Linked DNA regions of Homo sapiens. The protein of the gene in region 2 purifies or fractionates together with the protein of the main gene of each other region. This does not show direct contact. Each region holds a gene or a part of one and is shown on either strand. Other genes may lie near its edges.

Region 1 (3,656 bases), on a different chromosome or scaffold from region 2:
ATAAATAATGGTGGTTAACCTAAACCCAAACCATGAGGTTTCTTGCCACTGTCAATACTTAACAAGTCCTGTGTATACGAATTCTGAAAACACTGGCTCATGTGCCATATGAAACAACAATAGGAATTTTTGGGGAACAAAGACATTATTTAGTCAACAATGAAATCTCATTTTAGGATTATATTCCAGGTACCATACCAAACTGTTTTCAAATGAATCCCTATGTATGCTTGTATACGTTTTATTTCTTAATAACCGTGTTTTAACATTCACCCATCTTATTCTTCCAGTCATTTTACATGTGAAGAATCTGCCTCAATTAATTTTTTTTTTTTTTTGAGATGGAGTCTTGCTCTGTTGCCCAGGCTGGAGTGCAGAAGTCCCATCTCGGCTCACTGCAACCTCTGCCTCCCAGGGTTCAATCGATTCTCCTGTCTCAGCTTCCTGAGTAGCTGGGATTACAGGCACCCGCCACCGCGCCCAATTAATTTTTGTATTTTTAGTAGAGATGGGGTTTCACCATGTTGGCCAGGCTGTTCTTGAACTCCTGACCTCAAGTGATCTGCCTGCCTCAGCCTCCCAAAGTGCTGAGATTACAGGCATGAGACACCACATCTGGCCTGCCTCAATTAGTGTCCCCAGAGAATTGTCATATTAAGATTCAGTTTGAAACCCCCCACTAAGTGCCTCACCGCAGTTACCTCCTCATTCACTAGCCACATGAATGCCCGCCTTAGCCTCAGTCAGCCTCTCTGTCTTCCTTCTGCTCTGCTGAGGACTCACTCCATCACTGTGCATGACAGTTTCATTTCCCTCAGGGCGCCTTCCACAGCCACAGATGCATCTGACAAATGCCCCGAGCTCCTAAATCCCATGGCATTGTTTTGTCTGTACTACTCCATCGACACCGAAAACGTGCCAACCTCTATTATTATTTATCTTTTTATATGCATATATCCAGCTCCTCAACTAAGCTTTAAATCCTCAAGGACCCAGAGCACATCTTACGTGATGATGTGCACAACAGCCCCCTGCCAATACATCAGCACACCAAGCACTTAGTGCACAAGGGTGACCTGCCAGTCACGGAATCTGGAGCTGGGTGCTGCAGGTCCAGTGAGCTCCACGCTGCTACAGCCAGTGGTCATGCCCAGCCCTCCTCACATCTGACCTGGCCACAGCATGAGTCAGCTGATCTCTCCCCTCTCCTGTAGACAGACCTTCTGCGCGGCCTCCAGGACCACACCCTGTAATCACTTTCCACCTCCCTTAGTGGCCGTTACATCTGGCAGCGTTAACTAGCAGTTCCTCACATGCCTGGCCTCTTAAACTTGAAGGCCCCAGAGCGCAGTCCTTGGACTTGTTCTTTAAGTTCACTCTCTTAGTGGTATCAGAATCTCATTTTAGAGGTTCAGACTTACATATGAAGCTCAGAACTCCACACTCCATCTAACTGCCTACCCAACTTCACCACTTGAACCTCATTTGGTATCTCAAACTTAACTTGAAACAAACCAAGTTTCCGGTCCTCCCAATCTTAGTTAACAGTAGTAACTCACTCTCTTTCTAGTTGCTTAGGTCGAAAATGTTGGCTCCCTCTTCCAAATACTCTGTACCCAGAATCTGATCACATCTTACCACCTTCCCTGCTACCACCTGGTCAAGATGCCAACACTTCTCATCATGGTTACTGCAAAACAGCATCTAAACAGGCCCTCTTCTACCCTGGCCCTGCTGCAGTCTTCTCTCAGGAACAGCAGCACTGACTCACCATTAGCACTGGAGTCAGATCATCTCACTCCTCTGCCCCAACCCCCACAGTGACCTGCTGCACTTGCATCAAGTCTCTACTTAATGCCGCCCCTTGTCAGTCTGTTCCCACCTCTCGCCACTCTCCTTGCACACGCTGCGCTTCAGCCACTCTGCCCTCCTCAAACGTGGCAGGCATTTTTCTGCCTCAAGACCTTAGCACTTGATAGTGACTCTGCGTGAAACCTTTCTCCCCTCAAGAGCCACAGCCTCATGCTTGTGTCTGTCAAGAGCACGCTCACATTCCACATTCTAAGTGAGCCTTCCGACAATGCTCTCTAAAACTCCAACACCAGCCTACATGCCCACATACCTTATCCCCTTCCCTGTTCAGTTTTCTCCATGGCTTGTATTAACTAATAACATACCACATACTTTATCTACTTATTTCGTTCTTTACTGTTCTTCCCTTGCTCCCAAGAATGTAAACTGCATAAGGATAGGAATTTTCTTCTGCTTTGTACACTGACTTATTTCCCTGACCGAGAATAATATCTGACATACAGTGGGCAATCAGTAAATATTTGCTGAATTAATAAACAAAAGGGGGATGTAGATGATATAAAACATAGGGCATTAGGTCTCAAGCAGCCTGTGGAAAACCATAAATGTAGCATATGTGTTTAGGCTTCAGTTCTGCCACATTTTAGCAATATAACCTAACCTTAGATTCCTTATCTGTGACACGAATACAAATACCTACCTCACAAAGCTGCAGAGGAAGGAAATGAGATAACAACAGGATAAGCACTGAATGATATTCTAATATTATTATTTTATATAAATATAAAATAAAAATATGGTACTATTATAATCAAACTGTTGACAACAGCGACTACAGAAAAACATACTTTTCACCAAACTGATACTTACAAAAAAAGAAAAAACATACACTAAAAACACACATTTAATACATAACATACATATTATATCTGTTTAGGAGCTTCGATTATATGAAAAAAAATGTAAGTGTTTTAAGGGTTCGGGGACAAAGGAGTCCAAGGAAAGTGAAAAAGTTTAACCAGCTTCATGAAAGAGGTGGGTTTTGAGCTGAGCACTAAAAAAACGGGGTAAGATTTTAACAGGCAGACCAGGAAGAAAAGCTGCTCTCCATAGGAGAGTGACACGAGCAAGGGAACCCAGGCCGCAATGAGCGTGACACGCCTGTAGCTTAACCGAGAGCCCTGACAGGTCAAGGGAAACAGTTGTTTACGAAAGAGTAAGAAGTAAGATTGAGTGCATTTAGAGAACTTTGGAGAAGAGAGGAACATGCTAGGGTGAGAAGGGATAAGCACAGAAGGAATAAAGACAAGCGAGGATTCAGGTTGTGATCTGCCCCCAGTGTCCCCTCTGTCGGTGAGTGGAATGTCTAACCAGATGTACAACCAGAAACCCAGGGGGCCCACCACAATGCCTCCTCCTCCCTCTCACCCTCACTAAGTCTTGCAACTTCACTGCCAAGACCTTGAGTCTCACGCAGCTCCATCATCACGGCCACCCTACTCCTGACTCACCACCTAAATTACAACTGTAAGTTAATAAATGCTTCTGAAAAAACGTATTATGTACATTTATATTATTATTGTGTAACATTTTCTCTTAGACATTATGAATCATAAGGAACTCAACATAGCACAAGGCAAGTTTATGACAAACCCAACGACACACTTCCGTAACACCTCACCTAGCACAAACCTTCCTAAGCAGTACTCTTCTCTCTGAAAAGGAGGCTTATCTGACTGTGTGTTTTTTATATGACCTAACCTACATTTAACCTTGACCTCAGTAAACATACTGATCTTTCATTCTCTTACACTAATTCTAACCAATTTGTCAAATTCAGCACA
Region 2 (3,656 bases):
TTCCTTTCCTTTCTTTTCTTTCTTTTTTCTTTCCTTTCCTTTTCTCTTTTCTGTCTTTTCTTTTCTTTTCTGACGGAGTCTCACTCTGTTACCCAGGCTGGAGTGCAGTGACGCAATCACAGCTCACTGCAACCTCTGCCTCCCAGGTTCAAGCAATTCTCGTTCCTCAGCTTCCCAAGTAGCTGGGATTACAGGCGCAGACCACCATGCCCAGCTAATTTTTGTATTTTTAGTAGAGACAGGGTTTCACCATGTTGGCCAGGCTGGTTTTGAACTCCTGGCCTTAAGTGATCCGCCTGCCTCAACCTCCCAAAGTGCTGGGATTATAGACATGAGCTACCATGCCCAGCCAGAAATCTACGGAAGTCCTGAACAGGGGTCAGGGGTGTGATGTTGATGTTTATAAAAATTTGTCATGATGCTGTGGTCAGAAAATCTGATGAGCAGAGGAATAGATTCAAGTTCCGACATTTGACTAATTCCTTAGCTTTTCTTGGCCTAGGCTTTCTGCCATAAAATGGGAATGATAACATATGCTTTTGAAAATACTCATAGGACTACTTGGACAAATGAGATAAAATGGATGTGAAAGTTTTATTTTTCATAGCCTAAATGCTATGTAAGAATAGGCACTGTTATTATTGTTAGAAATCTCACAATTCTTTTTCTTAGGAGATGTCCATTTTATTCCAGAGTTGTTAGCGTAATTGATTAGGAATAGCTGTTGTAGCCCACTTTGCTATGTTACATCATCCTGTGTCAATCACTGATACATTTAATAGATTGAAAACTTGATGCTTAGGACAGAAGCTAGTTTTGAGTTCCATTCAGAACTCCTGAGGATAACCTAGCTCTACCTCTTAAGTGGCTTGACTGAATCCTCTCAGTCCCTGGGATTTTATGTAAAAACTTTAAGTATAGATCTCATTCAAACTGCTTTGATGATGTTTTAGGAAAATGTGCATGCCACAGGGTTCTGGGTAAGGGAACTTCTTAAGGTGGTAAATTTTCATGGAGTCTCTTCCCAAAATGACATTACTATCATTTAAATAAATTAAAATATTCTTATTTCTTTTTAAGAGAGGGTAGGTAGTTAGAGACTGCAGATTAAAAAGTGGAAGTCCTATTGCAGTTTTAGAATTGAACTGTGTTGCATTTGTTTATACTCTGGTTAGTCTTAGATGCTTATTCTCTAATTTGTTTTAATCACAGTTTTCTAAAGAAGCAGCTTTTCCTTTCAACCATCCAGTAATGTTCAGAAAGTTCATGGGGATCTTTGTCAGTAGAGGAGTTAGCAAAGTAGCATTATCATTTTGTTGCACAGTGGAAAAACCTTCCCCAGTTATCAAAAAGCAGTTTCCTTAATGAGCTATCAAAACTATTATACCTCATCACATGGTGTCCTTTATGGGTGGGCTGTTATGTTTGGCAAAGAAGTGTGGCGTACCACATTTGTTTGAAGAAACCTTTCCCTCTCTGGAAGAAACATGTAATCTTGGTACAGCACTGTGGAAAATTGTGCTGAGGTTTCATTGTTGAATATTCCAGAATGGGACTTTTTTATTTAGAAGACTGCTACATCTTCATGTACCATCTTCATGTGAATTTCTTTGGAAGCTCCTGACAAATTAGAAGTTGTTCCTCTAACTATGTCTTAATCATGAGGTATGTTGGTTAACAATGGGGCATTATGCATTCTTTGGCCACTAGTACTTTAAGAATTCCTTAGAGCTCTAAATAATACAATGATCCAAACACGTGTTAGGGTATGCCTTTGTTAAAGACACAGACTAGTTTACACTTGTTTTTACTCTCTTATTTGTTCAGATAGAACGAATAAGGAAAAATATGTATGGCCAGTCTGGAATACAGAAGCAGGGCTGACTTCTTGGGTTTGTGACCTGTGAAGTCACCCAGGTCATCATGCTCAGAAGGGCCTAGCACTTAGATCAAAGCTCTGTTGTCACCACCTTGACATTTTGAATATTTTTTGAACAAGGGCCACCACAATTCCCTTGTGTTTTGGGCCCCACAAATCACACAGCAGGTCTTGCTTTTGGGTCACTAACTGTCTTACTGACTGTTAGAAGAGCCCAGATATTGACAAAAAGGGAACAAGATGAGGTAGAGTGCCCAGAGACACTTGTAACAGGGAACATGTGCTAAAGAAATAACTAGAACCCATCCGTGCTCATGTTCTTGTTTTAATGTTGGTCTTTGTACTGTGGAGATTTCTGTTTTATGTAAAGAACTCCATGTCTCTTAAATTCCTATATTTACAAGTCAAGAAAAATTTATTTGGGTATTTGGGAGTGGAAAGCAGTAGGGAGTTGATCAGGGGAAATGTGAGAGCTTTTTTTTTTTTTTTTTTTTTTTTTTTTTTTTTTCATTATGAGCAGCTTTGGCCGGCAAAATCTGGCTCTGTTGCTCAAATTCCAGTGTCAGGACTTTATATGGCTCCTTTCCAAATGGAGGCAGTCCTAGGCAGGTGCTTGTACTTGTGATTATTTTTATTGTCTAACTTTTGACAGAACTCACCTCCTTCACATCTAGGCTCAAACGTCACCCTCTTTGTGAACCCCATCCTGACCACTCTATTTTAACTTACAATGCACTCCCATCCCCACTCCTCACATTCCAGACTCCCCTTATTTCACTTCTTTTCATTTAAATGCACAAGGCTTGGTGCATAGTAGGTGCCTAATAACCATTAATTGAATAAAGGCATGAGAGACTGTGTTGATAACACACATTCCTTACAGTTAAAGGTAAGCCTGGAGGAGAATAAAAATGTCAGCTTTCTTCTTACTCTCTTTTTCTCAGTTGAGTCTGTTCTCTGAAATTGGATTCTAGTTCTTAAACTTCCTCTGAGTTCATCCTTCAAATAGAACTGAGTCTATGATCGCAAGACAGTTTAAGATCTAATTTTCCAGTTTGAGCATATCCATATTTGTAATGGTATTTTCCAATGTCGCTGTAGGCATGGGGGTAAGAAAATGTATTAGCTGTGGAGGAGATGTTAAGAGTATACGGAATGTTACTCATCCTAAGGGAATCTTTGTGTTTCTGAGGAGAGACCCCTGGGCCTTTTCGTTGTTCTTCAGTGTGGGCCACGTTCACTTTCAGACAGTAACTCTGTAGGGATAACTCTGTCAGTGGTACGTTCAGTCCTTCATCTCACGCTTCTTCATCTCACTCTTCTCGAGAATGCTGGAGTCATTGGTATCCTCAGTTCCAGTATTGTTAAAGGTGAATTTCAAATTACTAGTCTATTTCAAAATACTATTGAATTCCAATTAGCTCACCTTTTGTAGAAAGATCAGCTATTTGTTCAAGTGTGTACTGACTTGAAAAGGGCCTCAAGAGACATTTTAAAGATCAAACATAATAGTTAATTAATTTTAAGCAGCCCTGTGTTTAAATTATAGTTGAAAACTGAACTTCTAGGCAAAGGGGTACTTTGACCATTAATTTAGTAAGGGAAGAGTTGGTGCATGGATAAAGTATTAAGGAAGAACATGAAAGTAATTGTGTAAAATAGAATCTATATTTGGTATACCCAAACTGAAGTATCTACCCTTGAACAATTGTTTCTGCATACTTTCATAATTTTGCTCTTATTCTCTTTAAATCTTTGAGAAGACATCTGACTAATC

The links. The genes of interacting proteins can lie anywhere in the genome.
Region 1: the proteins of PALMD (region 2) and MIPEP purify together in Homo sapiens (affinity purification with mass spectrometry, with the first as the bait; one study listed by BioGRID). This does not show direct contact.

Annotation. Positions count from the first base shown.
Region 1 is NC_000013.11:23,865,350-23,869,005, forward strand, and holds part of MIPEP (mitochondrial intermediate peptidase), read right to left. Parts: intron 1-3,656. UniProt on the Homo sapiens protein: Cleaves proteins, imported into the mitochondrion, to their mature size.
Region 2 is NC_000001.11:99,649,017-99,652,672, reverse strand, and holds part of PALMD (palmdelphin), read right to left. Parts: intron 1-3,656.